Linked DNA regions of Homo sapiens. The protein of the gene in region 3 interacts with the protein of the main gene of each other region in a biochemical or structural test. Each region holds a gene or a part of one and is shown on either strand. Other genes may lie near its edges. The genes, in order: MGMT, ATP1A1, PRKCA and HMGA1.

Region 1 (7,027 bases), on a different chromosome or scaffold from region 3:
AGCTAACAGCGTAGGTTCACAAAATCCTCATGCCAACCAAGGACCCTCCTGCACAGCTCAAACCTCCTCCCTCCCATATAAATCCTTTCACTTCAAAACAAGAGTGGGGCGAAGGGCTGGCTTGTGCATCATGAGTGTCTATATAAAGACCACTCTCACCCCACAGTCAGGTGATGGTTTATGTGTCTTCTCTGATTTTAAATCCTTCAGGTTTCGTTTAAATAATATCCTGCGAGGCCAGGCATGGTGGCTCATGCCTATAATTCCAGCACTTTGGGAGGCCTAGGAGGGAAGATCACTTGAGTCCAGGAGTTCGAGACCACCCTAGGCAACATACGGAGACCCTGGCCTCTAAAAACAACAACAACAACAATTAGCCAGGTATGGTGGCGCACACCTGTAGTCCCTGGTACTTGGGAGGTCAAAGCAGGAGGTTCGCTTGAGCCCAGGAGCTTGAGGCTGCAGGGAGCTATGATCTCACCACTGCACTCCAGCCTGGGCGAAAGACCAAGACCTTGTCTCTAAAAATAATAAAATAATATTCTGCGGTAAGACCCCAGCTCTTTCAGAAAGTAGCTGCATTAAAAACTACTTGTCCCAGGAAACAGAGGGTCAGGAAGGACCGTAGCAACAGCCCAAGAGCCGAATGAGCACAGGGCCCTGCAGGGTCTGGGAGGCTCAATGTGTCCCCTGGAGGGACTAGAGTCCCAAACGGAAGTCAAAAATCTCAGGGCAAGTGGATCTGGACATGGAACTTTATGCTGGGGAAGGGGGTCAGAATGAAGTGCAGAAACAAGAATAATGCTAAAGGAAAAGATAATGCAGAAAATTCAGTTTTGCCTCCATTTTTTTTCTATCAAAGAGAATATACTGAAAAGAGCATTAGCACCAAAAAGAAAAATGGAAGGTCTGAATCACTGGCTCCTAAATGTGTGTCCTCTGCAAAACAGAACAGACAATTTAGTAACTTTATTTTATTATAAAATACTGAAAGAGTCAGGGTTTTGGTGTCCTAAGAAAGGGTGGGAAGAGGACTGGAGAGGAACAAACTCTGAGGGGGCAATGGGGAAGGCAAGTTCTTTTTCAGGCCCTTCCTACCCCCTTCTTCCCTGCAAAAGGACAGAGGAGGCCCTGATTGAGACACCTGGGGAGGAAACCCAAACAACGAAAAGTAAGGCCCAGGTGATATCAAAGTAAGACCTCAACAAGGTTCAAGAATCTGAGCAGCTGAACAAGGTGCTACCCAATGTATACCTAGGGCTCTATTTCTTTCAACCTTACTAACAGCAAAGCCTTTTTAAAGTAGTGCCTAATACTATTAGTTAAATCCTTATTTTGATACAGATTTTTTTGTTTCCCCTTCAGGACAGTTTCACTCTCGTCGCCCAGGTTGGAGTGCAATGGCGCAATCTCGGCTCACTGCAACCTCCGCCTCCCAGGTTCAAGCAATTCTCCTGCCTCAGTCTCCCAAGTAACTGGGATTACCAGCATGCACCACCACGCCTGGATAATTTTTGTGTTTTTAGTAGAAACTGGGTTTCACCATGTTGGCCAGGCTGGTCTCAAACTCCTGACTTCAGGTGATCCACCCACCTCGGCCTCCCAAAGTGCTGAGATTACAGGCGTGACCCACTGTGCCTGGCCCAGATTTTTTTTTTTTAATGAAGATATATACATTGAAAAGTACCTGAGTATAGCTCCGTACTGGTGGTCTACTTCATCCAGGCCCCTGACTGTGGCAGACACTACTCCACTATTCAAATTCCAACCCGAGACAGAGGGCCCAGGAAGAAAGACACGCGGCAGAGCAAGGCCAGCTCTCCTCTGCTACTTGCAGGCAGACTCCGGGTCTGGGCAAGTATCCTGGCCCTCTGAGTTAACGTGATATTAACAATCAGCCAGGCTCTTGACGCGGTTTCCTTCAAAGTTTTCACACCCCCACCCACCAGGTGCGCTAAGCTTTGGGTTTTTAAAATCTTGTTCATCTCCCAGAGTGTTTTAGCCATTGAGAGGGCCCTGAAAATAACAAAACCATCTCCTAGACACCTGCCCAGGGATGGGGGAGATGACGGGAGAGCCTGACTTAACAGATACTCTATAGGTTTCTATTTGGATGTCTATGTAAATAACCAGTCTAATTCTCAGCTCTCTGTGCTTAACATTCTACTGAGAACAGCTCTCTGGACCAAGCCGCTTCCCTGTCTGATGATGATCTCAGCAGGCATAGGTTGCACACACATGTACAAAGTCTGCTTTCCAGGACAGAAAGCCAGCTACTCAGCTGAAGCAACTGAGAGCAAACACCACCCTGAGATTTCAGGAGATGATGAACCCAGGAGTGCGAAATACATAGTTCAGAACTCCTCTGCGGTGTTATAACCGACATTACGGTGCCCAGTGTGTGTGGCTCTCCAGCGAGCCTTGCTTACTCTAAGTGTTGATGAATACAGTTAGGGTATGATGTACACAAACACCAGCCATAGTAACCAGAAGGCCCCTAGAACTTGGCCTCCAGCAGGAAGGAAATATGGGACTCTGCCTAAGTATGCTAAAGGGTTGCTGCAAGCCAAGGCCCGCGCAGGGGCTTCTGGAAGCTTCCTGGAGCAGCTGGCGGAGGGAAAGCTGGCAGCATGGAAGGGTAGGAAGAACCCGGGGCCCGGGCCTGGGGCTGGCACCTAGAGGTAAGGCAGGGGCTGCCACGACCCCCGCCACACGCCAGTCCACAGTCACTGCAGCGCAGCCTAGTCCAGGAACCCCAGGCCCGGGGAAAGGCTGGGCAACACCTGGGAGGCACTTGGGGCGCACCTGGAGCTCGCCCGGGATGGGTGGGGGTCAGGGCGGCCCCACACCCGACGGCGAAGTGAGGGCGCCTGCAGGACCACTCGAGGCTGCCACCGTCCCGAGGGAGAGCTCCGCACTCTTCCGGGAGCGAGGCGACCCAGACACTCACCAAGTCGCAAACGGTGCGCACCGCGAGGACCTGCGGGCGTCGGGACGCAAAGCGTTCTAGGGGCGCGGGCTGTCCCAGCATATCCGGGGCGCGGGGGCGGGGCCGAGGGGCACGGGGATGGCGGCGTGGGGCGGGGTCTAGAGCGGGGCGGAGCCGAGGACCTGAGAAAAGCAAGAGAGCGCGCGGGGGCGGGGCCGGGGCGCGCGGGGGCGGAGCTGGGGCGGAGCCCGGGAGGGGCGGGGTGTTCCCGCCCGACCGGGTCGGCGCATGCCCTGTGCGGCGGCGCCGGGCCTGAGGCAGTCTGCGCATCCTCGCTGGACGCCGGCACGCCGGCCCTGGTCCTCCGGCAGCGCCGCTGCCCTGTGCGCCTGACCCGGATGGCCCTTCGGCCGGTACAAGCCGGGCGGCGCCTTCCCAGCTTCCGCCTGAGGCTCTGTGCCTTAGTTTGCCAAATGGCCCGTACCTTTTCCTGTCACAGGGATAGTCCGCGGGCGTGCAAGCGACCTGCCACGTGCCCGAGTGGTCCTGAAAGCGCGCGGGGGTCGTAGGACGGCGCCCGCTTAGTGAGAATCCCGGTCCTGCTCGGGGCGGCTACGCTGAGCCCGGAGCGCGAGTCTCTCCCCTCCTGGTGCCGCTCCCCTAGTCAGGGACCCCCAGACCAGCAGAGACCCTGTCAGGGGGCCGTGGGGGCAGCCTCCAGGGCCTGTGGTGGGCGATGCCGTCCAGGGGCTGCAGTCACCGATGGCCTAGACACTGCCAGAGCCTGACTCAGCCGCTCTCCAGAGAGCACACAGGGTGCCAGGCCCTGCTTGGGGTTGTGTGGACGTTATTAGGAGTTGAATTGTGTCCACCAGAGAAGCTATGTTGGAGTCCTAACTCCCAGTACCTCACAATGTGACCTTATTTGGAGATGGGGACTTTACAGAAGCCATCAATTAGTGGGCCCCTCATCCAGTATGACTCGTGTCCTTATAGGCAGAAGGCCGCTTGGGGAGGAGGATTGGAGGGCTGCACCTGCAAGCCACCAGAAGCCTAAGAGGACAGACCCTTCCCTGGAGCCTTCGGAGGGAGCAGAGGACACTCTTCCCTGGAGCCTTCAGAGGGAGCAGGATCCTAACACACCTGGGTTTCAAACTTCTGGCCCCCGGAAGTGTGAGACAATAGGTTTCTGTTGTTTTAAGCCACTCAGTGTGTGGCACTTTATTATGGCAGCCCCAGGCAATGGGTACAGAAACCATTGTCTCTAACGTGGTTGGCATAAGCACCCCAGGGAGTAGTATCATCCCTGGAGGCTTCGGAGAGGTCACACACCCCTTGGCAGGATCCCATCCAAGGCCCACATGTTCTAAGCCACCATGCTACGGGCCTTCTAGGTTCTGTTTGTTATCTTAATGGAAAGGGGTCTTCACCTTCCCGGTGAAGTTTCCCTGTTGGGATTCGGCCAATGCTCATACCTTCGTATTTGTGACTTGCAGGATCCAACATATTAGCATGAGTGATAAGGGTTGTTCAGAGGAGAACTTCAGCAGGATTTGCTTTGGGATGAGCCCTGGTGACAATACAGGCTGCATCATTGATCCTCTGAGGTTCCCCACCCCGACCCTGCCTTGGATGAGACATGTTTTAAATAGCTGCTTGTGGGAAATAAACTAGGCCCTGAGTACACGATATAATGGTCAAATCAAGGCACTTTTTCCCCACTGAACCTGGACACAGCCTCGGAATCCTTCTCAACACTGTGTTCCAAGCAGCCATTCACATTTAAACTAATGTGGAAGGACAGATGAAACATGTTTGCCCTTGGCTCTGGTTTTTTCCATTAGCCTTCTATAAGACTTCGGGAAACTCGTCTGACTTCTCTAATCCTCAGTTTCATACTCTGTAAAGGAGTCTCATGATAACGTACCCTACGTGTGTACAAACTATCCTTCCATATTAGGGCATGTGTGCATAGGGAAAATAAACCACCAGCACCACACCACACTACTAAGAAATAATGCTATACACCTGGCCACTTACAGCCTGTTACTACCAGGACCCAGTTAGAACCGGGATCTTAATAGAACCAAAGGAAAAACAATGCCGAAATGGAATCAGAGTGCCGACTGATATTCTAACAAGTGTGCTGTTAAGTAGTTTTGCAGTTAACACATGACTCATACGTTTATCTGAATAATATTTTAAGACGAATCCCTAAACTCTTAAGAAAAAGAGACTGGCCAGTCTTAGCATCTCTAATTCCCCACCCTAGGAAAGAAAGGCCAATGTGGTCATCCAAAGGCCCTTTAGGAGGGCCCTGTGGGAATGGGGAGGCGGTCCACGAGAGAAAGTGCTGGCTTCCCAGGGAGATGTGTGGACCTGGCCCTGGCTGTACTGAAAGAACTCAGTCCCCTTGCTGGCGTGGTGGGAAGAACTATGTGAAGGGCCACAGCTACTTCAGTGGTAAGGACTGTGTCAGGGGCTCCAGGATCAGGAGCCAAATAAGGGTCTCAGTGCAGAGGGGAAAGAGGAAAAAGGCCACCACCTGACCAAGGACTGGCCTGCAAAAGACCAGGATTCAAGGATGTGACTGCTTAGGCTGTCTGATGAGCAGAACTCAAACTCACACTCCTTACACCTGCTGGTGCAAGCTCCTCCCTTCATCATGGTAATTTCAAAAACCCAAGTTTTCATCAAGAGCTCCCCACGCCTCTCCCCCTTGTCCCATTACAATCTCATCATCGCCTGTGTGTTCGTCCTACTGTTAAAGGAACACAGGATGGCTCCAAAGCCGGGAGGTCGCCGGGTCCACTGAAGAGTAAGGAACACAGGACAGGGAGGCTCGGATGTGGTGCCAGCCCTGCCCCTCACTGAGCAACCACCTGACTTCTCTGTTCATAGGATGACAGTGCAGGACTGGTTGGGTGAGATTCCTTTGAGGTCTCCCATCTTCAGATTAACAAATCACAACCCCTTTTCCTCCAGACACAGATTCCTATGAAGAACTTTTTACAAAAGAGGTGGGAAAACCACAAAAGGGTATGCTCAACTGCAGTCCGACTTCCTCAAGGAGCTCCCTGGATTTCCTTTAAGATCAGCCAGCTTTCTTGTGGGCACTGGGAACAATGTTAATCTGCATAGTTTCTTTAAACATCCAAATGGATACCTTTCGGGTTAAGCAAATGAACATGACATGCGATTGCTTCTAATGATTTGCAACCCAAGAAATTTGTTTAATAAGCCTGTCTTCCCAAGCTACTTTTGTGACATTAGAGACCACTTACAACAAAGCTGCCTTCAGTAGTCAAACTTAATCCTTACTACCCTACCTTTGGGAAATGAAGGGATTTTATAACGATCACATAAAACCTTATGTGGTTTGAAAGCCCCAAACTCCGGACAAATGTGTGATGGTCGTGTAACAAAAGAAACATATTACAGAGCTCCCCACGTTAAGTGTTTTACATATAGTTTGCTTTTAGGATAGCATCTCAAGTGGAGGGTTTTGCTGATTAACACAATTGATTTTCTTAGTCCCAGTGTTCCTGTAAATGTTGGAGCCAAGAGCTGGAGTCAGCGCCTTGGACCTGGGAGAGGCCAGGAGGCCAGGGAGCCTCAAGCACTCTGGAGGAAGAAGCCTGAAATGAAAAGGTGGGGGCCATCGGTACCGGGGTTGAATGCCAGGTGCTTCTGATTACGCTCCTGTGTGACACTAGTTGTCAGCATGGCAGAGGCATCATGGTGTAACTGCAGCAGGGAGTGTAATCTACTAGTGGGCAGGAGAGAGGGCGGGAAGGAGGGACTTCAGGCTTTGCCTCACATAGAGGGTAAGGGAATGGTGCAGGGTGGAGAAAGGGGATGGAGGTGCAACTAAAACAGGAGGGGCTCCTTAGCTCTTGCTTTCCTCCAAAGAGGCAGAACATCCTCCTGCCAGGAGCCCCTGGGAGCTCCTGTTGAGAACTGGAACCCTTCAGGCCCTTTTGTGTCAAGAAGGGCATGGAGGAGAATTCCTAAAGAAACGAACCAGAGGCAGCCCACAGACTCCTATTAGAAAGACTTTTCCTGAAACTTCCTTTGCCAGTTTGTGGGTGCAGGGCC
Region 2 (7,907 bases), on a different chromosome or scaffold from region 3:
AAGAACTCTCTCAATTGTTTTTCCATGGAAGAGTTTAAGGCCAAGAATAGCAAATCTATCCACCACGATGATGGCACTTATTTCCTTAGTGCTTGTGGTTGTGCCCCCTGGAGAGCAGGAAGGGTTAGATGCCAGTTACCTCCCGCCACCTCTTCCCAGCTTTGGGCTTGCCCTTTCTGAGCTGTAAGGCTGCCTGAAGCTGTGTCTCTGCTGGTTGGATGAAGATGGGACTCTGGCAGTGGAATATTTTTCAGTCCAGATCCCTTCTTTGTTACCATTTGATTTTCTTTTTTTTTTTTTTTTTTTTTTGTTGCAATGCCTCGGTAGTTGTTGATTTGCAGAAAACAATTGGTGAGTTTTTAAATGTAGGATATTGTAACATCACATAGTGTTGTGAACTAGGGTAAGGGGAGTAGAACTGTATTGGCAGAGAGTGCTAAAGGAGAAGGCAGAATCCTGGCTCAGGATCTGGTATAAAACACACAGGAAACAACTAAAGAATCCTTTATTACTGCTTTATTTACGAAGACCGCTATTAATAACAGCAAATTATTTAAAGGGCAGCTGGGTTAAAAGGATGCTGAGTAAAACACCAAGGACTTGATTCTGTTGTGGTTGGTGATAACCTACAATAGTTACCAAGTAAATGCAGACTCTTTCAAATTTCCCAGTTTCCCAGAGGCACAACCTGAAGTCTTCAACCACCACTAACAGGAGAAAATATGTTTAAAAGAATACTAAGGAGCTTTCAAAAGGATTAAGAAATGGCTCGGGGGCCGGGCGCGGTGGCTCACACCTGCAATCCCAGCACTTTGGGAGGCAGAGGCGGGCAGGTCACGAGGTCAGCAGATCGAGACCATCCTGGCTAACACGGTGAAACCCAGTCTCTACTAAAAATACAAAAAATTAGCCAGGTGTGGTGGCAGGCGCCTGTAGTCCCAGCTACTAAGGAAGCTGAGGCAGGAGAATCGCTTGAACCAGGAGGCGGAGTTTGCAGTGAGCCGAGATCGCGCCACTGCACTCCATTCTGGGGCGATAGAGCGAGACTCCGTCTCAAAACAAAGAAAAAAAAAAAGAAAGAAAGAAATGGCTCGGCTGCGCTCCATTCTGGGGCGATAGAGCGAGACTCCGTCTCAAAACAAAGAAAAAAAAAAAGAAAGAAAGAAATGGCTCGGCGTGGTGGCTCACACCTGTAATCCCAGCACTTTGGGAGGCTGAGGCAGGCAGATCACTTGATGTCAGGAATTCGAGAACAGCCTGGCCAACATAGTGAAACCCTGTCTCTACTAAAAATACAAAAATTAGCCTGGCACGGTGGTGCGTGCCTGTAATCCAAGCTACTCAGGAGGCTGAGGTACAAGAATTCCTTGAACCCGAGAGGCAGAGGTTGTAGCGAGCCGAGATTACACCACCGCACTTCAGCCTGGACAAAAGAGTAAGACTCCATCTCAAAAAAAACAAACCAAAAAAAAGGTAAGAATGGAGAGTCTGGGAGGAAAAGTTATAGGAGTCAGAATTATTTGCTGACAGATTTTGATAGTCAGCAATGCACCCAGAACTGTGCTTTTAAAGACAGGTGATATGTCTGCTGCTGAACAGAAGAAAAGGAAATAGATTTGCAATGGAGGCACAGAGATTTGCAATGGAGGCACAGATAATGGCTAGGGGGAACTTTGAATGATGAAGACAGTTGACTTTAAAGCAGCAAGAGTGGCTTTCTGGGTAACGTGGAAAATTCTGGATAATGTGGGAAATAGGTAAAGGATAAAGATGCATGCTTATGACTGTTTCCATGCTAACTCGGGAGCACACAAAGCCAAAGAAAATTCTGTCCTTCCAGATCTCTAGCTCATAGATCCCCAAAATTTTTGTGTCCTATGGAAAATGCTAAGTTGGTGTGGGCTCCAACTCATATTTTAAAGCCTTTAATTGCAATGATGTGTTTATTCAATTCAGCAAATACTCAAAGTGCTAGCGTTCTTGGCTCAAAAAACTGACTTGCATCATATTTTTCATACATCTGCTGACTCTATTCACAATGACTGGAGCAACCATCCACAGTTGTGATCAAATTCTCCTCGAAGCTATCCATACTTGGCAGCCTTAAGGTCTATAAATGCTGAGTCTCCAGGCCAATCAGTTTAACTGTGCCCCAAGTTAGAAGCTTGAAAAGAGTTGATAGGATAAGCAGCAGACAGAATAGAGAGCCTTTGCTTTCTTCACCCTCTCTTCTAGAATCCAAATTTGTCCCCTGCACTGGAGTTAGAAAAGCTACCTGAAAGTCTTGCCACTATTCTTGGAATATTCAATACCAATTACTCCCTGGGCCTCAGTTTCTTCATCATAAAATGAGGGAGCTTGATGTTTCATCTATAAGGTTTCATTTCATTCAGAAGCCACTCTTCCAAGGGAAGAAAAGAAGGCTTTTTCTTAAAAAAAAAAAAAAAAAAGGACTTTTCCTCCTTTGCTTACCCATTTTCCAAGGTGTCTCTCTCATATCTGAGATTTCCTTCTGCGCCTCAGACTTGGTCATGCCTTACCTTTTTCTTTACCTCAAAGACTTGTGAGAATTCAAGGGCACTGTGCATCTGAAATTACTGTGTGGCATCAAAAGCAAAATACAGATTTAAGATAATGTTTCTTATATTTTTTGCCCTTTCTTCACACCGGAACACAGCTAGAACTCTGGGATCCTCCTGAAAGGACCTTCAGCAATTTTCAGTTGCCAAATAAATAGCTCTAGATACAAAGGGAAGTGCCTTGATCTATCAGGGTTATTTTGTTGAGTGAATGAATGAGAATTTTACTTATGAGGGGAGAAAAAGGAGATCAGCTGGCAGGAGAAATCTACGTTGTTCCGACCCGTGCTTTATATATTTAGTTGTTGCCGCGGCACTTTTCCCATTCAGACCAGGGCCCAAGGAGTAATTAATCTTTGTTTTTATTTTTATTTATTTATTTTTTTGAGATGGATCCTCACTCTGTCACCAGGCTGGAGTGCAGTGGCGCCATCTCAGCTCACTGCAACCTCCGATTCTGTGGTTCAAGCGAATCTCCCGCCTCAGTCTCCCGAGTAGCTGGGATTACAGGCATGTGCCACTACGCCCAGCTAGTTTTTTTTTGTATTTTTAGTGGAGACGGGGTTTCACCAGGTTGGCCAGGATGGTCTTGATCTCCTGACCTCATGATCCGCCCGCTTCGGCCTCCCAAAGTGCTGGGATTACAGGCGTGAGCCACAGTGCCTGGCCCAGGAGTAATTAATCTTAAACAAGCTATCTTTAGCAAGCAAAAGCATCTTACAAAGTACAGTAACTGAGGCTATCAAGCATGTAAAGAAAGCATTTTCTAGAAGCTTAGAGATGGATCCCCGAACACTCTGTAACCCTCTGTTAACAGTCTAAGGAATTCTGTTCTGAATTTGGGGGCTCTTCTCCAGGCAGTCAGGGTTTTGAATTCTATTTACAATTCCTCTGCTCTCTATGGCCTAGAATGATTGAACCAAGTCTCTAGATCACTGTAGGAGACATCAACCTTTAACAATACATTCTTGAGGAGAAGAGACTCGTGTAAGAAACTATCTTGTAAGAAGGGATGAGAATTACCCTAATGATGTAACTGACAACACAGTTTCTAGTTTTTCCTTTCTTTCCTTCCTTCTCCATTTTTTCCAGTTTCATATCCTTGTTTGTTCATGCTACATGAATACTTGAAGTTGATAGAGTTGGCTTTAACTTAGGAACCTTTGCTTAGAAAGTCAATATCCTGGCCTTTCCCAGAGTACTTGACTTCCTGCAAACCTTGTTAATAATACTTTGTTTTTTAAAATGTTGGAGAACTTCAGCCATTGCAGCCTCTTGCTAAGAAGCAAAAGCTATAATGACAGAGAAGCCCCAAAGTGCAGTGGAACCAGGGATCTCCGGGGAGAGTGGTGGTTTCCTGGGCCCCCCCAGAGAACCCAAGGCTGTGCTGGAGATGCTGCCGTGACAGGTGGAGGCGTGGAGAGGCACCTGGCAAGTCCTCAAACGCCTCCCCCTTGATTTAGCTCCTCTAGCTAAGGATACGCATTCCTTTGGGTTTCAGGTTTTTCTTCCCTAAAAAGAGAATCCCCAAACTGGACAAGCAGGTTACATTCACACAATAGCGTGAATGAATTCGCTGGTCGCCCTTCAGATTCTCATTTTGGAATCTCGAAGAAAGAGAGGTGGTGGGAGGAGGGCGCTTGAAACTTCTGGCGATGCCAGTTCAGATCGATTCCAGCTATGACGGAGCGGGAAGTGGATAAAGAGGACCCCAAGTCACAGGAGGCACTCTGAGAGCACCAAGCGCCCGGGGAGGCCATCCGCAGGTGGGCGCGGGGCCTGGATTCCACAGAGGGGCGGAGTCCCTCAGTCAGGCGCTGGCTGCAATCACACCCGAGCGCCAGCCCCCTCCAGCATCCCTGAGTCCCAGAGGAGATCGCCGAAGCGCTGGAAAAGCCGTTCCGCCCACGACTTCTGGTGCCGGGTCGGCGGCGACTGGGGGAGCCCAGTTCCGAGACCGTACCGCACCCACTGCGGACCTCCTGGGCCCTACATAGTAGGCGGGTCATGCAGGGCAGCGGGAGGAGGGGCGTGGGAGGGCCAAGGCCGCCGAGTCCCCGCTGTTCAGCCAGCAGGAGCGCCCCGCAGCCCTCCCGGGACACGGTGGACACGCTTGTCCCAGACCTGGGCGCCCTCCTGCCGGGAGCCAGGACTGGCCGCAGCAGGCGCTGTCCGGGCCCGTGGGCGGGGTTTCGGGAGGGGGCGGAGCCAGGCCCACGGCCGGTGTCAGGTTGCTCCGGTAACGGTGACGTTTCGCGGCGTGGGCGGGGCCAGCACGCAGGTTGCATATTTTAGGAAGTGAGGAGGAGGCGCGGGCTGGAGCTGCGGCGGGGTCTGGGGCGCAGAGCAGCGGCGGGAGGAGGCGGACACGTGGCAACAGCGGTAGCAGCCCGGGCGGCGGCAGCAACAGCGGCGGCGGCATCGGCCCGAGCCGCCGGCCGCCCTCCCACCCTCCCGCCCCGCGGCAGCCCTAGCTCCCTCCACTTGGCTCCCCTGGTCCCGCTCGCTCGGCCGGGAGCTGCTCTGTGCTTTTCTCTCTGATTCTCCAGCGACAGGACCCGGCGCCGGGCACTGAGCACCGCCACCATGGGGAAGGGGGTGAGTGTCCGGCGCGCCCGGGGAGGGGGCTCGGGGAGCCCTCGAGGGGAAGAGGAGGAAGTCGGGAGGGCGACCGCGGCCAGCGGGAGGCGGCGGAGGAGGAAGCGGCGCCGCGTGGAGTGGGCTGGCAGAGCCGCGCGGCTTAAAAGACGACGCAGTTTGGAAATGGAGGGAGCGCAGTAACGGGGGGCGGGGGAAGGGAGCGCCGAGGGGCTGGAGCGCGGCATTGCTTAGGGGGGTGGGCGGACCCTGGGCGGGGGCTGCGCGCCCCGGAGGCCGAGCGGGCCGGGGGCTCCGAGAGGCGGTGCTTGGGAAGCCTCGGGGCCGGGAGGAGGGGGCTTGCAGCAGCGGGGGCGGCCCCGGGACTGAGCCGGCATCCCTGAGCCTGGCTCCCCTCCCTGCGACCGCCGTCACCTCCTTCTCCTTCCTTTTCCCTCCGCCCTCCGTGCCCTGAGGAAAGGCGCGCTCCTCCCCTTCCCCTGGGGCGCTCCGCCGGGGCCTCCTCCCGGGCCTCCGTTCCCGCCGCGGCCCCGGTTCCGGCGGGGGCAGCCTCCGGGTTCGGGGCTCCTTCTCCTGGGGACGCTGGGGCTTAGCTTGCTCCGCGCAGAGGCGGCCGCCCTCCCCCAAAGAAAAAACTGGCTGCTTCTAAGTGCGAAGCCGGCTGGGCGGGCTGGTGCCAGAAAGGGTGTGTCTTCACTGCCCTAAGATGGCCTTTAAGGTATACTTTTGAGGGCTTTCTTGGGCCACTTTCCGTAAACACAGGATGCACCGATGGCAACTGGAGTTGTCATCCGATGGTGGGGAGAGGCGTGCAGATTTTTTTTGAAGGGACGAGCCCTGAAGGAGGATAGGCAGACCCACCAGGGCCTCAGGGTACAAGAAACCCGAAAAAGGACTGGAGGCTGCAGGCAATACGGTGGTAGGAATCTCTGCCGGTTTCCAGCGTCGCGGAAGCACCAAAGGGCGGTCCCTGAAGGAAACGAGGGGTCTTGGGGCTGGAGAGCGGCGCGGAGCGTGGTGGGAATATCGTCACAACGCCGCTGTCCTACATTTCTGTAGCGAAGACTTGATTACCCCTAGCTATTACCCGTGCAGGAGACTGGGCCCTGGACCCCAAATGAGCCAAAGTCTAGTTGAGAAAAATTTACACAGAATAACCTCGGAGTTCATGGGGTGAAAGTGACCATGTCATGAGAATACAAATGGGAGAGAATCCACTTCGTTGTCTCCAGGGTTTAGCACAGTGCAGACACTGAGTAGGTCTTTGAAGGCCCTGAGGCTTCTGGGTGTAGACAGAGTGTCGGGAGCAGAGGGAGGCTGCACTCCTTGGGGACTCTAAGGGAGTTTTAAAGGAGGTAATTGAAAGGCTTGGACCTGGTGGGGAGAACAGGCACAAGTGGAAATGCACAACTCGCCTCGCTTTTAAAAGCATGCAGCGTGGAGGGCTGGTCCAGGTCAGGTGGCATCAAAGAGCGGAGTACAGGGCCTCTCCATTCCCCTGATGGAGTCTGGGTTAGTGGCCTGTGCTTTTACCACACCGTCAAACCCTTGATCATTTCTGTAAACATGCACTTTAAAGCTCATTCTTTGTCTCTCCTGCCTTAAAAGAAAAAGAAAAAAGTTTACTTCCTGAGCTAATTTTGGGGGGTTTAGACATCACAGATGTGTGCCCCAAGCCTAGGAAGGTGAAGTGACTTGCTCAAGGTCAAACGGTTGGCTAGTGACAGACTAGGCGTCCCTGATTCTTGAACAGCCTGTGGCCTCAAGCCTGAACATGCATTTACTCTTTAACATTGAGTTCTTTATACAGAACTCAGAACTTCGGATGAAACGGGGTATTTGTGATGTTGAATTAATAGGCCATGGAGATGGTTTGGGTAACTAAGTTATGTCCATTTATCTAGATGTCTCCTTTATAACCACACACAGGCACACATGCACAGTAGTGATGCGGTGGTAACCCACCTGAATAGTTAGTAGAGCTTAAACCCAGATGTCTTACAACAAAATGTATAGTGGCTAGCAAACACAAGATTAAATTACAGCTGCGAACACTGGGATGATGAGCTGCTTGGCTGCTGGGTGGTAGTTAGCATTTTGAGTATTCTGATACATTAAACATTAGTTTACTTGTGTGTGTGTTTGTGTGTGTGTTTGTCCTGTGACTTATTGTGAGCGTCCAAATGTTCAGAAGAATATTTCATGTTGGGATTTTTCCACATGGGGATTAAAATGTGGGTGGAGAGTGACTAAAGCCCTGCTGATAATTGGCTAACAAGGAAGCCTGTGCCGGCAGCTAATTTTTAAGGTCATTGTAAATTTCTTCCCCTCCTCTCCTCAGTACCCTTTGTGGCCTAGCTTTTGATGATATTTCAGGTGATTTTATATGTCCTTAAAAGTCTAGTTCCTAAGCATTTGGTAAGAAAATGAAAGAACAGCTCTTGCTGAATCATTCCTGGATGAAATAGGATTTTGTCCCTTTTTTTCTTTCTGGGTTTTATTGCCAGTGACTTGGCTTAAACCGTCAGCTAGGCCTACCACCGGCAACTGTTTCACTCACCAAAGGTACACGCCATAACTGTTTAGAAATGTGGGAAAGTTTGTCTTCTCAAGTGTGTAAAAGATGAGGAGGGGGGGTCTCACCAGGTCTTTCACTGCATTCCGGATTTAGTTTGAATATTATTTACCGAAAAAATAAATCATAGCTTATGAGTAGTGATTTAAGGAAGG
Region 3 (7,989 bases):
ACGGCATCACTTTTAACATTTAATGTTGGCTTAAGAAACCAGATCTTAGAAAATATAATTCCTATTGTTTGCATTTGAGATGACCACGATCTAATTTCTACTGAGAACCAATAGCATTCAAAGCACATAGGGAGGCTATTTTGTTCTTGTACATGACTTTAGAGAATTTACTCTGTAAGCAGAGAACCCTGACGTGGACGTTCAATTGCAGGTATTGTTCTACCAGAATGAACTGCATTAAAATTTCTTCGGAAGGTTGAGAGTCATAATCTCTTGCTTCACATAGAATGTTTCATGTACAAAGTATTTCACATACTTTTAAAATTAACTTAGAGTCATCCCCCCTACTAAAAACCATATCTAACTCTAAACATTTCGCTTAAAAATATCAGTGATTTAATATTGAAATAAACGTGTAAATCAAGGACCCCGTAGAAGCAATAATGAAAGCAAACTGAAAAAGACAATCCCCGTGGATGGTTTCCTGGGACTTCCAATTGGTTGGTTTACAATTAAATGCAGAGTGCTGCAGGGATCCTCAGGGGGGCATTTTCCACTTCACAATACTGGTGGTGACCTGAGCGCCTCTTCAGCTCACCAGGGGCTGATCCTTCAAGGGCAACTGATAGTGGAAAGACAATAGCTAGCCTCAGTATGCTGCAAGTCCCTTTCTAACTCTCCTACTTCCTGCAAAAGTCACCAGCAGTCTGTTCCCTTTTAATGGACTCTCACAGCTGACCTCCTCTTAACCAAATGCAATATTCTCTTTGCCCTGATGCTCCGAAATTTTTATTTTAAATAGCCTTATCTACGACTACCTACTCCTTTGAGCACAGTCGCTTCATATGCCGACTAGACAGTGGAAATCACTCATAGAGGTGGCTGTGCTTTTCATAAAAGTGTACTTGGGAGCAGATGTCTAAAAAGGAAAGGAAAAATTAAACACCTTATTCGCACCACGATCATGGGACCTGCCCTTTGGGATGTTTTTCCCCAGGTGTGATGGATTCCGACAGAGCCATCCATACTATGCTCACCCTAGTGGCCCAAGATACCTGTGCCACACAGCTGGCTGGTGGCAGGATTCACTCCGTGACTGCCACCCTGTGCAGCTCCCCCTGGCCTAGAAGGAGAGGGAGCTAAGAAGCCCTAGCCATAGCTCTGTCTTGCCCGGAACTTCCTACACCACAAAGAAGAGGTAGAAGAGTCAGGACGTCGGGCAACTTAAAAGAAAAACCAAACTACTGCTGCTCTAACTAGAGGACCTAGAGCTCCTTTAGTTCCAGCTTTCAAAACTTTTGTGTGGTGACGGGGATCTGGGAAGAAGGGTCACACACCTTTTGAGGATCAGATGAAAGCTGTAATTCTCTCACCAGGAAAAAGATTCACAAACACAATTTCCCTCAGTTTTACAGGGTTCAGAGACCCCTGAAGCCCTTCTATGTATCGATTCTCCATAAGCCCCCAGGGACCCTCCGAGTTAAGAATGCCTGAATTCATTGGCGATTACCTGATCTCTGACCTCTGGCCCTTATATTATTTTTCTTAAATAAGGCCTCTGCCCTCATCAACAGGGTTACAGGTCTAATCTCGAGTTGACAGGGTCTGTTTCATTTTTTTTGAGACGGAATCTCGCTCTGTCTCACCCAGGCTGGAGTGCAGTGGCCCGATCTCGGCTCACTGCAGCCTCCGCCTCCCGGGTTCAAGCGAGTCTCCCGTCTCAGCCTCCCGAGTAGCTGGGATTACAGGCGTGTGCCACCACGCCCGGCTAATTTTGTATTTTTAGTAGACGGGGTTTCACCATGTTTGCCAGGCTGGTCTCGAACTACTGACCTTAGGTGATCCGCCTGCCTCGGCCTCCCAAAGTGCTGGGATTACAGGCGTGAGCCACCGCGCCTGGCCGACAGGGTCTATTTTAAATGAGTCCCTCTGCCCTTGTGCCATTTGCCTGCTAGAACTCCCCCTCCCCCACTGCAAGCTTTCAACAGTTTGCTCTCTCTCTCTCTGCTCACTCAGAAAAGTCAGTCTCTCCGTGCCCAGTAGATGCAGCCTACAGTAGGCAGGGGCCCAAGATGCCAGCGCAGTCCAGCCCGATGGGAAGCACAAACACAACCCCCCCACCCCGAACGCGCCCAGCCTGGCTCGCCAGCAACTTGGACCGCGCGCAGTGCAATCGCCGCCGCTCCCCCGTTACTCCGGGGCGCGTTTCTCCGGGAACCTTTGCCCCCTTAGGGCCTCTCCTCCTCCCCTGTCCCCTGGGCTCACACCCCGGCAAGCGGCCGCTCCGCTGGGTGCGTGCGGGTGGGCGCGCCCGGGGAGGTGAGGGGCCCGGCCCGGAGAGGGATCCCCTTCGCCACCGTACGGGGCCAGCCTCCCTCTCGCGCCAGGGGGTGTGTGTGGCGGGACGGCGACGTCCCGGGAGTCCTGCCCGCCGGTGTCAGGGCCGGGCGCGCGTGTCACTCCGGGCGAAGAGTTCGGACTCCCGCCGGTTCCAAGTTATCGGAGTGAGCCAGCCCCGGGGCGGACGCGCCGGAGCGCCGGGTGCCGGGACCCGGAGGCGGGGAGGAGCGGGGCAGGAGTGCCCGGCCCGGCACCTACCAGATGAAGTCGGTGCAGTGGCTGCAGAAGGTGGGCTGCTTGAAGAAGCGCGCGATGAATTTGTGGTCCTTCACCTCGTGCACGTTCTTCTGCCTCAGCGCCCCTTTGCGGGCGAAGCGGTTGGCCACGTCCTGAGACGCCGTGGAGTCGTTGCCCGGGAAAACGTCAGCCATGGTCCCCCCCAACCACCTCTTGCCTCCGCCGGGGAGCTGCGGCCGCGGAGGGCCGGGTGGGCGGGGGCGGCGGGGGAGAGGTGCGGGCTCGGGGCGACCCCGGGCGCGGGGCGCGGGCCGGTGGCCGAGGTCGCGGCGAGGGGGCGCGGCGGGGGCCGGGGAGAGTCGGGCTGGTGCTGCGCGGAGCGGGAGCGGGAGCCGGAGCCGCTGGCTCGCCCGCTGGCCCCAGGCTCACTGACAGCCCGGTGCCCGGCGCTCGCGCTTCCTACTCGCGGCGGCAGAGGCGGCCCGGAGCGGCACCGCCCACCGCGCATGCCCCGAGCGCGAGGCCGCGAGGACGAGCGGCGGGGGCGCGCGGGCCGGGCGCGCGCGGGGGTGCGGCGAGGGTGCGGCGGCGGCGGCGCTGAGCGGACCGGACCGAGTGCGGAGGAGGCAGCGAGTGCCTTGCGGTGCTGGGAACACTGGGCAAGGGGAGGCGGCGGCGGCGGCGGCGGCGGCGGCGGCGGCGGCGGCGGCGGCCGGGGGAGGGCCGGCCCGAGTGGGGATGCGGGGGAGGAGGCCGGGAGTGGCGGGTCCGCGCTCCTCCGCCGCCTTTTTCTTTCCTCCCCTTCCTGCGCCCGGCTCTCCTCCCTCTCGCCCTCCTCCGCCTCAGTTCTCCTCCTCTTCTTCCGCTCTTGCCGCCCGGCCTCCTCCTCTCCCGGTCTTCCTTCTCCCACTCCCGCTCTCTCTCTTGTCGACGGGCTCGGAGTCCTGCGCCACCCGTGCCGGGCCGAGAGGAGCCCGCGTCCGGGAGTGGGCTCCACGCGCAGCCCCTGCCCCGGAGCCTCCCGCCCGGTGCTCACCTCCTAACCCCTCAGCACCCGCAGCAGGGAGCCCCTTCCCCATCCTCAGGACCCCCGGTGTCTCCAGGGCACGACGCCCGTGTTTTAGCTGCCTGTACCAGCTTGAGGTTTCACCTGGCCAAAATGTCACTTTCATCACGTGTGCACTAAAAGACCTAGCCCCTAGACCTTCCTACAGGAGGAAGAGAGCGATTTTTAAATAATTAAGCATTGACCCTTTCCCCTACCTTCTCTTCTTGACCTATACCTTATTTCACCTGCGTGTGGTAGAGACTTTTAATTTGTACGTCGGGCATTTATCACCACGTGGGATGGTTAAAGGACTTGTCTTAGGTATTTATCCCGTTATTCAATGGCCACCAGAGCGACGATGTTGATTATCAGGCTTTCTTGATTTTACAAGTCCAGGACCTTAATTTAGAAATCATTTTGCATCCCAAGCTAATTACTGCAATACTGTCAGGTGCAGAGTGCAGCCAGTACGTTTGTAACTTACCAAGTAAAACTGCCTGTGAAAGAGTAGCGGGCATGGCTATGCAAAGGACGCAGGTGGGGATGCACCAGCTAATCACTCGCTGAATATTTATCAGGTCTGCCTGGAGGCCGCTAAAATACATAAGGGAAATAATCATTTCTCAGCGTTTCATTGGTGTTTTGTTTTATTTGCCAGATTCACGAAATCCCCAAAACGACTTTACGAGCTAAAGAGACCAAGAAAGAGAACACGTTTGATCCTTCAATAAATTTATGTTGAAAAAAAAAACTTTTCTAAAATACTTTCTTAGAGCATGTAACATAGGCCAAGTAGAGCTAATATTGTTTTCTTTGAGATTGCCTAATTGTGATGCTTGATGATAGGAATGTCCTTTATATTTTTAACAAATGGAAGCTCTCCTGACTGGCCGTCAGTGGTGCATGCACTTGACTGATCCATTTACAATCTCTTGAGCCAGTCTTGGTGCTTCAAGAGCCTGCACCTGCCTGGTATTCTAGCTGGTCAGAAATTTCGCCACTCATGGTCGCCCCTCGGGTCCAAGGAGTCAAAAAGGGAAGAAGCAAAGAGGAATGAAGAGCAGGGCATGTTGGGGAAATAGTCCCAATTCTCCATGAAACACTAGAAGCATCTCAAGCCATGGTGGTTTATTGCTTGAAAGCAGAAATCAAATGGAACATAGTGGAATGAAATAATTTCTTTTCTCATAGTCGTCTTTTATCTAAGACGGAGATCCTGGCACATTTTACAAAGACAAGCTTATTTCTATGTCCCTGAGGCTTTCATAGGAGGATGGAGAGAGCTGGAGGGTGAAGTTGCTGATAATGGAATCCTGAGTAAAGTCATAGGAAAGACAAGAACAGAATGAGCCCTGGCAGCAGCCTGCGAATCTCCTGTGTACTCCATGGAGTGACTGTCTTAGCTGTCAGTAGATCAGATGGAACAATGTGTCTGTTTTCTTTTAGGTTGTGGCTTTGCATTCTTGCCTCAGTTGTTAGTGTTGTTCCTGGTGGGTACGAGGAGGAATGATTGACTGGAAGTCAACTGATTCATGGTTGGGCTGGGCATGAAAGCATCAATAGCCCACATCTTAGCTCAGTTGGGGAGAGGGGACTGTGCACCCAGAGTGGGGATTTATCAATTACCAAGCAGTGTAACACTGTCCCTAGCAAGGACTGATGGAAATGTGGGCCAGCATCTACTCCTGCAGCCTACCTGAAGTCCCCATGGTATAACTAAAATGGAGGAGATTAAGGACGGGAGAACCCCCTGGGTTGGGGGTAGTCAGTCAGTCATGAGGGCATGAGTAAATTTTATTTTCGAGTCTGCTATTTCATGGGGAAGGTGCGGGAAAAGAACAGGGAATGTCAGACTGAACGCAGAGTTTTTCAGAATCCGCTTCTGTCCTCTGCCTTTGAGGAGTAAGCTCAACACTGTTTGGAGAGGTGTCACCTAGACCAGGGGGACCCAGAGGCTGGAGGCTGGGATCAAAGTCAGACCACCAAACAGATGACTCAGAATCCCAATGGTTTGAAGCCAGCGGTCTTTCAGATACAATTTACAGCTTGCTGCTCTATGCAGCTAACTGGACTGTTTTCAAATGAACCAGGACATTTTCAAATTGGGCAATAGGAATTGCATAAGTATCGAAAAAGCATCATTCTGAGATTTATGGTAACCAAGATGACTTAAGGCTTATATTTTATTCTATGCACCATATTCAAGGTTTAGGAGAGGCAAGGCAACTGCCGAAATGCGTAAGCAGGCAGCAGTCAGATTCACTGTAACTGGCAGATCTCTAAACAGGTAGAGGTGAGGATCTACCTGAGTAGCAGAACACTAGAGTCAGGGGCCATTTTGGGGTAAGTTTAAGGAGCAGGGTAGTACTGTATAGGAGTGGATGAGTCAGATGCCCCAGTCAGAGGTTAGTTCCAAGGCTTCCAGGTCTGGTCCTGCAGGTTGCTCATAGCACAGGAGCTCCCAGTCAAGAGACTAAGTAGGGGCTAAAACTCAACTCGCATACTCCTTGCCAAGTGTACCTTTGGGCCTCTGTCTTCCCAGAAAAGCCACCATTTTTAAATTCACACCAAGGTACCACATGGGTTAATGAAGGCCCTGGTTGGTTGTGATTACAGTTGATTGATTCCAGTTGGTTGTGTCTCCACTGAAAGAGCTTCTGTGGGCAGCCTCCCTGGAGTTTGAGGCTTGGGGACTTTGCTTCTAAGCAAGCCTTCTTCTAGGATCTCTTTCTGTCTCCTGTATCTCACAGCATCACTAGTCCCTCAATGGCTCAAGTTGAAAACCTAGGCATCATCCTTATTCTTCCCTTGGTCTTACTCCCATATCCAATCCATGAGAAAGTTTAATTGGTGCTTCCTCCAGGACAGATCTCAAATCTATCCACCCCCAACCCTAGCCTAAGCACTATCATCTCTTTCCTGGGCCACTGCAGGACCACTTAATTGGTCTTCCTGCTTTCGTTCTTGCCCTTCTCAATTTGGACTCCACAAGTAGCCATCTTTTAAAAATGTACCTGTTTAAACCCACTTTATGTCTTGAATAAATGGAAAGATATGCCCTGTTCTCATACAGGAAGAGACATTGAAATGTCAGTTTTTCTTAATTAAACCATAAATGTAACTTAGCCCAATGAAAGTAGAATTTTTTTAGAAGTAAACAAGCTAATTCAACAGTCCAAATGAAAAAAAAAGTAGGAATAAATATCCCACCAGATATTAATCAAGAACAAAAAGAATAACAAGCCCAAGAAAAAATAATGGCAAATGTCGTGAACAGATAGTTCTCAGAAAAGGAAATACAAATAGTTCCTATGATAAAATTCTCAACATGTCTCATAAAAAGATAAATGTAAATTAAGATCATATTGAAACCCCACTGTGACCTAAGAGTTGGGCACACATAAAAAGTGTAAGGAACACACTGTTTCATTAAGGGTGTACAGAATCAAATGGTTTCATACATCATTAGCGGGATTGTAAATTGTCGCACACAGACATGATACAGAGCAATTTGGCAATAATTGTCATTTAAAAATGTATCAAACATTTTGATGCATGTACTTTTAAAAGGTTGATACATTTTATAAATGTAATCCTAGCACTTCCACTTCTATAAATGTATCTTGCATATATAAACGCACGTGTACATGAAGGCATATGTATAAAGGCAGCACTGACTCCAGTAGCAAACAATTATTAAATGTCTATCCACAGGAGATTAGTTAGATCAATTATGCATTCATTTGCTAGAATTATTTGCAGCTGTTTAAAAAATGAGATTTTTTTTTTTTTTAATTATATGTACTGATATAGAAATATCTTCCAGATGTATGAGTGAAAATGCAAAATGCAGAAATGTGCATAGAATGTTAGCATGTATGGGTTTTTAAAAAGATTATATATAAATATACATTTAAAATATCTGGGCTGGATGCAGTGGCTCATGCCTATAATCCCAGCATTTTGGGAGGCCAAGGTGAGAGGATCATTTGAGCCCAGGAGTTTGAGACTAGGCTGGACAATATAATGAGATCCGTGTCTACAAAAAATACATAAAAAATTAGCCAGGCATGGTAGCATGTGCCTGTAGTCTCAGCTACTCAGGAGGGCTGAGGCAGGAGAATTCCTTGAGCCTAGGAGATTGAGGCTACAGGAGCCAAGATTGTACCTCTGCACTCCAGCCTAGGTGACAGAATGAGACCTCATATCTAAATAAATAATAAATGAATTGCTTTTTAGCCAAAGCCATAATGCTTGAATTCTTTGAAAATTTCAAATCTGCCGGGCGCGGTGGCTCATGCCTATAATCCTAGCACTTTGGGAGGCCGAAGTGGGCGAATTGCCTGAGTTCAGGAGTTCAAGAC
Region 4 (7,826 bases), on a different chromosome or scaffold from region 3:
AAAACCTTCTTGGTCATTTTCTAGCATCTTCCTTCTTCTTAGAGGCCTGTTGGGGTTTAATTAACCCCATCAATTTTGAGTTTTCCTAAAACTTCTCATTGGAAGGAGGGCCTGCAACCTGTATTTGGGAATACCCTGTATTACAGGCTTAAAAAGGACAGTCCTCCACATCTTCATCCTAGTCCTTATCCCCAGGCTACAGATGGATGAGACGCCGGAGGCCTAGGCTACACATTTTTCCAGTAACCAATCCCTGCCTGCCATGGTAAGGGGTGGGACAAGCGGCTCCACTTCTGAACCCCTCTCAATCTGTAAGATCAAGGTAATTATAAGGTACCTGCCTGAACTACCTCCTGACTGCTTCAAGGATCAAACTAGGTAATAGTTTAGAAAAACTTAAAATAATAGAAAGAAATCTTCACTCTAACCAAAATAAGAACTAGACCATTTGAAAATGATTTATGGGCCAGGTGAGGTGACTCATGCCTGTAATCCCAGCACTTTGGGATGCCAAAGCAGGAGGACTGCTTGAGGTCAGGAGTTCGAGACCAGCCTGGACAATACGGTGGGACTCCCATGTCTAATTTAAAAGAAAAAAAAAAAAGAAGAAAAAGAGTTTTTACCCCAATGAGAGGAAAAAAACATTTTTGCAAACTTGTGATTTCTAGAGGGCCCAGGACCTCCATTTTCAAGCATCAAGAGACCCTCCAGACAGCAGGACTTTGGTAATTATTCTATCTTATAATGTTTCAGACTTGGAGACCCTTTTAAACAAGGTGGTTGGTGATTTATCCTGCTCCGTCATTAGTGGCTTGGCCTGCTCTGCAATTACAGGCAGTGATTAGAATCTTATATTACACCACAGGTCCCCCTTCAAACTAAACATCAAAATTAATCAACTAAACGAGTGCTGACCTCATATAAGGTCTGCCTGGGGCCCCCTCATCGAGGGGGTTCCAGTTGGGCGAAGCCAGTCCGGAATCCCAGAGAGCCTGGCCCGGCCTGCCTGGAGATCTTGGCGGGTCTCCCTGGAAGCTCTCATACCATCTGGTGCCTCCCCCCACCTCTTGCTGCTGGGGACCCTTTAATCCCCTCAGCCAACCCCCCACGAACTAAATGAAGGCCCGAGGCCCTTTCCAGTGAGGCCAAGAAACGTTCGTCTTTTCCACCTGTTTCTGAACATCAGAGGCCTGTCTTGGAGGAACTACATTTAGGGCCTAACCCCAATCCCTCACTTTGTAATAAGCCCGCTTGGGCCTCAAGCCTGTCTCCTCCATACACTGTGCATGCAAACTGTGCTCCTCAAATACTTAAGGACTCTGCAGGAAAGGCCCTAGGAAATTATCTTGGGGGTTCCCTTGTTTTCTTCCCCGTCCCCCGTAAAAAAGTAGCCCAGAGAAGCCTTGAGTTGCCTAAGGTCACACAGCAAGTTGGCGAGCAGGAAGAAGTAGGTTCCCGGAGACCCTTTCAACCCGACACTTTGCCTACCCGCCTAGCGGCTAGGGCTAAACCCCCGAGGCATCAGGCTCCAGACCCGGCCCGAGGGTGACTCTGCAAGTGTCTGCGCCCGGCCGTTGCAGGCCGGCCGGCGGGACCCGGGGCCAGGGCGCGCGGGGGGAGGGGCGCAGGCCGCTCCTGCAGGCGCGGGAAAGCAGCGCACCCCGACCGCATGCACCGCCACGCGGGTGCACCCGGCCCCACTTCCTGCCAGAGGGGGCACCCAAGCCCGCCTTGGGGCAGGAAACCTGGCGCGCGCGGGCGCGGGGGAGAGGAAGAAAGCCCCCTCCCTCCGTCCCCTCCCCGCAAAATAAAGCCCCAGAAGAAAATAAAATAGAAACGGGGAGTCAAAGGGACTAGTTCCAACAGAGCCCAGCAAAGCAGCGAAACCAGTTTGTGGGGGCGGAGGGCAGGCCCGGCCCCTGGGGCTGAAGAGGCGCGGGCCAGGCCAGAGGTGGGGTCGGGGTGAAGCCCCAAACCCAGGCCCGCGCTCCGGCCTCATCTGCGGAGGGGGCGCGAGAGAAAGGCCGAGAGGGCGTAGGGCCGAATTTGGGGGTTCCTCCCCATCTCCCTCACTTCCAGAACTTCCCTGAGCTGCGGGGGGCGCCCGACCCCCCACTCTCCTGCCGCGCCGCAGCCCGTGTCTCTCCCCGCCCCTCACCCGGGCCCGGGCTCGGGCTCGGGCTCCGGCTCCAGCGGGAGCGGCCGCCGCGCGAGGTGCGCCGGGCTCCTCCGGGCTCCGCCGGGTGCACAACTCGCGCTCGCCGCAGCTGCGCGCCCCCTCCCCCACCGCGCGCCTTTCCCGGGTCCCCGCCCCCCGCAGGGCGCCCGCGGCGCGGGGGAAGGGGTGCGGGCGTCCTCCCCGCGCCGCCGGGCCCCGCCGCCCGCCCCCGCGCCGCGCGGCCCTCCCCCGCCGCCGGCTCGCGCCGCCCCGGCCTGGGAATAAAGCCGGCGGCGCGCGCTGCAGCCCCGGGCGGCTCGCAGGAGGGGCGACGTGCGGGCGGGGGCGCGGGCGCCCCCCTCCGCCGCCGCCGCCGCGGGCCCCGGGGACGACTCACCGCGAGCTCGGCCGCCGGCCTGCGGTGCGCGCTCCGGGTTGCCGGGAGCGGCGGTGCTGGGCGCTGAGGACCGGCCTGGCTCCGCCGCGGCCGCCGCTGGTAGCAAATGCGGATCTGAAACCGGGAGAGAGCAGAGGCGCTCAGAGACCGCCGCCGCCGCGTGCTCGCCGCCCAGGCCCCCGCGGGGTATTTATGTGTCACAGCCAGGCGGGGGGACAAAAATATTCCCCCTCCCCCGAAGGATGGCGAGGGGCAGGAAGCTGGGCACGGCCCGTGCGCGGCCTCAATAAATAAATAATTTAATTAAATTATAGATATAAAAAAAAGAAGCCACCGGAGCGGCCGCGAACTCACGCCTTCTTGGAGCCGCGCCAGCGCCAGAAATAGCCCCGGCTCGGAGTCCCAATTAGAGGAGCGCAGCACCGGCTCAGGGGAGCTTAAAAAGAGCGACCCAGGGGCAGGGGGGACGGGCCCGCCCGCGCCAGCCGTGTCACTCAGGGGGCGGGGCCATGCAAATGAGCCCGGGGATTTAAAAGGGCGGCCGCCCGCCAGCCGCCGCCGCCGCTGCCGCGCGGGTGGGTGCTGACGGCAGGGAGGGGCGTGTGGGAGGCCTGGGCTGCGAACTCGAGTCGACCGCCCACTCCTCGCAGTCCCGGACGGAGGAGGTGTGGGAAGGCACGCGCAGAGGAGTCACGAAGGAGCTTCTGGCGGGGGGTGGTGACGGGTGGCGGTATCCTTCCTCCCTGGTACAGGGGTCCCAGGGAGAGTCACCTCTAGGGGCTTCCAGGGCGTGTGGGCCCGGCCCCCCCCCCAGGGCGTGTGGGGGTGGACGGGGGTCCACGCGGGCCCAGGGGGTGAAGAGAAACGCGCTCGTTAGAGAATTCCGCGGCCTACACGCCGCCCCCTAACTAAAATAGAGAGATGGTAGATTTCCCCTGGGCGGACAGGTGTCAGCATGTGCCTTTCAGTGTCAACCCGCGTGTGGCTGATTGGTGAGATACAAGTCTTGTGAAATTCAAACGTGAAACTTGTGAAATCCAAAGTGTTTTATTAATGGCCACCAGCGAGCCATGATCAAGGTGGAGCCTTCCAGCGAAACCAACGATTGGCTCGTTGGCAGGTACACCCAAGGGAGGCTTCATACCTTGAGGTGACTTAGATGGTGTTCTGGAGATACGCAGGCCCACTTGGGGACCTGGGCCCTTCCGTTGGGACTGTAAATAAAAATAAAAGGTGGGCCAGAGGTCGCCTGGAAGCGCTTTGAGGGCAGGGGCCGAGCACGCAGGCCATCTCCGCCACGCCTGGCCCGCCCGGCGCCCGGCTTAACAAAGACTTGTTGCACCGAGCGAGAAGGAAGCCAAAGGGGAAGATGGCGGGGAGGGCGGTGGGGGAGGAAAGGGCGCAGGCGGAGCGGCGCGCCCTGCAGGCCGGCCCGGGGCCTTCTCGGGCGCACCTCCCGCGCCCGGTCCCCGAGGCGGCCTTCCACACCTCCTGTGATGCAGGGAATTGAAATGCGCTCCAGTGACACACGGCTGTGACTCATGTTTTTCTCTGCTCCCCTTCTTCCTCCCCGGTCAGCCGAGGCCCTGGCCCAGCCCCCTCCTCAGGGGGCGAGCCGGCGGTGGAGGGGACGCAGGAAAGCCCTGGGCCCGGCGCGGAGGCGGGGTGGGGAGCGGCGGGCTGGGCCTTGCAGTTGCAGGAATGTGGCAGGAATGTTTCCGGTGGGGGTGGGGAGCGGGCGGGGGGTGGGCCCAGCCCCCACCCGTGCGGCGGGAAGCGCTCGGGGCCCGGGCAGCACGTGCTTGACCGGGTGGGGGCGGGGGCGCCTGGGCGGGAAGGCGCCAGGGGCCGGGAGCGCGGGTTCAAAGGGGAGGGCGCGGGCCTGGGGCCGGCTCGGCCTAGGGGTGGGCCCGGAGGCCGCCCTCTGCGCGCCGGCTCCCCGCCCCACGTCCAGGTGAAACGCAGTTCCTGAGAAGTCCCGGGGCCGCCCTTGGAGGGGAAAGGAAGTCACCAAAGGGCGGCCCGAGGGGAGGGGAGCAGAGGGCGGCGGGGCCCGCGAAGAAGGCTGGGGGAGGGGCGGCCTGCCCCTTTGTCTGGTGGGTGGGGGTGGGGCGGGTGGATCGCGCCGCTCCCTCCATCTTTGTGCCCTGGGCCCGGAGCGCGCGCTTAGTAGGCCGTGAGTGGTGGTGGCTGGAGGGCGTTCGGTTTCGAGCGCGGGAACCTCTGCGGCGTGGCATGGAGGCGCGATTCCTCAGCCTCCAGCACCCCGTCCCAGGTCACAGGCTCCCCGCCAGCACCTTGGGACCCAGGTCTGGGCTCGGGCTGCCCCCCAGAGCCGCGCGCCCCTCCACTTCGCGCTCTCCAAGGCCGCGGAGGCTGCTAGGCCCGGGCACCGGGCTGGCGGCCTGGCGGCTGGGGAGGTGCGGAGAGGGTCCTGTCCGCCCTCTCTCTCGGGTACATCTCTCCCCGTCCGTGTGGGACGTGTGGCCGCCCCTGAGACGGGGAGGGGAGAGGGACTTCCGCCTCGAGTGGGCTGTGGAAAACTTGGCCAACTTTTTGGCCCACTTGTAGCAAGCCGACTCGATCTTATTTTTCCTACTCTTATTTTCCTCTCGGCCTGATTTCCTCAGCGACTTGTTTTTTACCTTGTATTGTGTGTATTTTTGTCAGCCACCTCAAACCCTTTCTGGAAGGAGGCAGGTATAAATAAATTCGTAGGCAAATAAATATAGTAGCTTGTTCCTCTCCAGGATTACCCACACCCTTGAAATCCAAATAACTCTCTACTCACTGACCCCCACCTCCACGCTTTCTGGATTGTCAATGCCCTGAATTCACTGTCTTTCCTTTCTTTCCCCTTTAAATAAGTATTAAGCAGAAGAGCGAGTGGTAGAGATAAAAAGATGGGTAGGATCTAGTCCTTGTCCCAGCGAATTTCACGTCTAGGGAAATCAGAATCAGGCCTGCACTAGAGAAAACTGAATAGCAGTACAGGAGATGCCATGTTAGAAAACATTTCATTCAGTAGTTATTGAGAACCTACTCTGTAGCAGGAACTGGGCCAAATTCTTGGGGTACAATTAATGAACAAAGTCCCCTGCACTCTTGAAACTTGGACCAAGGGGTCAGGCGCTTACAGACTTAGGAGGAAATACAGGAGGAGAGGATGGGAGCCCAGGGTGGTCAGGGAAGTCCTGGAGGAGACGGGCTTGAGCAGGCCTTCGTGAGACTTGGATAGGTGGGTGGCTGAGGAGTTGGGGACAGGGCAAGCAGGAAGAGGGAGCTATTCCAGGCCAAGGACATGGTCAAGGCCCGGGGGGTTGAGTTGGTCGATACCAGAACCCGTCTTCCCCACAGGAAGCATTTTCTGTTATTGGAGTCAGTCTATACAGTTTGCTCAAGGACGACCCAGTGAGCTTCAGTGAACCCAATGGGAATGTCCAGGGAATGGGGAGTTTGAGTCAACTTTATATTTTGGGACGCTGACTCTTAAGCTCATTTTCTAGATGAGTAGGTGAAAAAACTAATGTGGATGGTTCCATTTAGTTCTATTAAGTATTCAGCTTGATGCATTTTCACAAAGTGAACACCTTTGTGTCACCAGCATGCAGACCAAGAAATACAACATCTCCAGTACCCCTGTGTAACCACCATCTCAACTTAAGCAGCGCTTCGTTTCACCTGTTCGTGCACACGTAGGGATATGGAGTCTTACATTATGTATTCTCCTGGGTTAGTTTCCTTTGCTTACCCTTATGTCTGTGAGGTTCATCCATGCTATTGTGTGTGGCTGCAGAATGTTCATTCTCAGGGCTGCTTAGTGATGTGATATGAATGTACCACAATTTTATATCCATTCTGTTGAAGGACATTTGGATAGTTTCTGGCGGGGGGCTATTATGAATAGTGCTGCCATGAATGTTCTAGAATATAGGTGAGTAGATGTGCAAATTTCTGTTGCGTACGTGCCTAGGAGAGGAATTATTGGATCACAGGATGTGTATGCTCAGCTTCAGCAGACGAGCAGGGCACTTCAGAGTGAAAGCGGCACTATTAATACTTATGGCCAGACAACAGGCATAAACCTGACCTGGCCCCTATCAACCAGGACTGACCCAGGCCGGTAGGAGGTGGGGCTACCCTGGTACACAATGTTTGACCACTCTCCTCAAGAGTCACCCAGCTACTAGTGCATCTGGTCATCTGGCAGGATCAGGCTTCCAGGCTCTGCTGACCACAAGTTCTGCTGCCAGCAAGGCTGGCAGGCCTAGAAGGGGAGGAGGGCCTCTGCTGCTTCCAACTTTCGAGGGAAAAACTCTCAAGTGAAAAGGAGGGCCCAGGAATCAGGGCCCTCTCCGCCTTCCTACTGTGAGCTAATGACCCACCTTGCATGGCCCCAAGATGCCATGGACTTGTCAGCTTACTTCTTCAGGGCTAAATCCCCAAGGAAGCCCAGCTCCTCTCCAACCCCTGAAGAAATCTAAGGAGAGAGTGGAGTTGATAAGCATATACTGAATGCACATGTTCTCTCAGATCCTCCACATCCCTACTGGTGAGTGATACTGTTGCCCCATTTCACAGGTATTAAAACCAGGTCTTGGCCGGGTGTGGTGGCTCAAGCCTGTAATCCCAGCACTTTGGGAGACTGAGGTGGGCGGATCACCTTAGGTCAGGAGTTCGAGACCAGCCTGACCAACATGGGGAAACTCCGTCTCTACTAAAAATACAAAAATAAGCCGAGCTTGGTGACGCGTGCATGTAATCCCAGCTAGCCGGGAGGCTGAGGCAGGAAAATCACTTGAACCTGGGAGGTAGAGGTTGCCGTGAGCCAAGATGGCGCCACTGCACTCCAGCCTGGGCAACAGAGTGAGACTCCCTCTCAAAAAAATAACCAAACAAGTCTTGGGGCAGTTAAATATAAATAGCTAAGGATTTTGCCTCTTTCCGCTCTACTGCTTCTATTCCCAGGCTGGATGGGCTTGCTGCCTCCTCCCAGCCTGGCCAGATGGATCCCTCCACGTACCACCACCAAGGGTGTGGCCTTGAAATGGGTAGCTACATTCCTGTCCTCAAGGGGCTTGCATTGAGTGGGGTGCACGAGGGGATAGACAAGTACACAGGCAATTCCACCAGCGTGGTACATGCTGTAATGCCAGCCTGAGGAAGCACAGGGCAGGGGCCCAGGGTGTGGGTGGAGCATCCCAGGAGGCCTAGGAAGCAGGCAGGTGGGAGCAGTAGGGTGTTTGGCATGGGGCTGGACTTGGGCCTGTG

Evidence for each region.
Region 1: of the proteins of PRKCA (region 3) and MGMT, one has a biochemical effect on the other in vitro, tested with the Homo sapiens proteins (2 studies listed by BioGRID).
Region 2: of the proteins of PRKCA (region 3) and ATP1A1, one has a biochemical effect on the other in vitro, tested with the Homo sapiens proteins (one study listed by BioGRID).
Region 4: of the proteins of PRKCA (region 3) and HMGA1, one has a biochemical effect on the other in vitro, tested with the Homo sapiens proteins (2 studies listed by BioGRID).

Annotation. Positions count from the first base shown.
Region 1 is NC_000010.11:129,463,220-129,470,246, reverse strand, and holds the start of MGMT (methylated-DNA--protein-cysteine methyltransferase), read right to left. Parts: upstream 3,007-7,027; 5' UTR 2,951-3,006; intron 1-2,950. UniProt on the Homo sapiens protein: Involved in the cellular defense against the biological effects of O6-methylguanine (O6-MeG) and O4-methylthymine (O4-MeT) in DNA. Repairs the methylated nucleobase in DNA by stoichiometrically transferring the methyl group to a cysteine residue in the enzyme.
Region 2 is NC_000001.11:116,368,347-116,376,253, forward strand, and holds the start of ATP1A1 (sodium/potassium-transporting ATPase subunit alpha-1), read left to right. Parts: upstream 1-4,897; 5' UTR 4,898-5,165; coding exon 5,166-5,177; intron 5,178-5,520; exon of another isoform or gene 5,521-5,883; coding exon of another isoform or gene 5,884-5,895; intron 5,896-7,907. UniProt on the Homo sapiens protein: This is the catalytic component of the active enzyme, which catalyzes the hydrolysis of ATP coupled with the exchange of sodium and potassium ions across the plasma membrane.
Region 3 is NC_000017.11:66,297,634-66,305,622, reverse strand, and holds the start of PRKCA (protein kinase C alpha type), read right to left. Parts: upstream 3,011-7,989; 5' UTR 2,772-3,010; coding exon 2,599-2,771; intron 1-2,598. UniProt on the Homo sapiens protein: Calcium-activated, phospholipid- and diacylglycerol (DAG)-dependent serine/threonine-protein kinase that is involved in positive and negative regulation of cell proliferation, apoptosis, differentiation, migration and adhesion, tumorigenesis, cardiac hypertrophy, angiogenesis, platelet function and inflammation, by directly phosphorylating targets such as RAF1, BCL2, CSPG4, TNNT2/CTNT, or activating signaling cascade involving MAPK1/3 (ERK1/2) and RAP1GAP.
Region 4 is NC_000006.12:34,232,047-34,239,872, reverse strand, and holds the start of HMGA1 (high mobility group protein HMG-I/HMG-Y), read right to left. Parts: upstream 3,001-7,826; 5' UTR 2,992-3,000; coding exon of another isoform or gene 2,910-2,991; exon of another isoform or gene 2,670-2,909; coding exon of another isoform or gene 2,556-2,669; intron 2,459-2,555; coding exon of another isoform or gene 1,493-2,458; intron 1,083-1,492; exon of another isoform or gene 916-1,082; intron 1-915. Other genes in the region: translation initiation factor IF-2-like, read right to left, coding at 1,493-2,458, 2,556-2,669, 2,910-2,991, 3,143-3,298, 3,617-3,627. UniProt on the Homo sapiens protein: HMG-I/Y bind preferentially to the minor groove of A+T rich regions in double-stranded DNA. It is suggested that these proteins could function in nucleosome phasing and in the 3'-end processing of mRNA transcripts.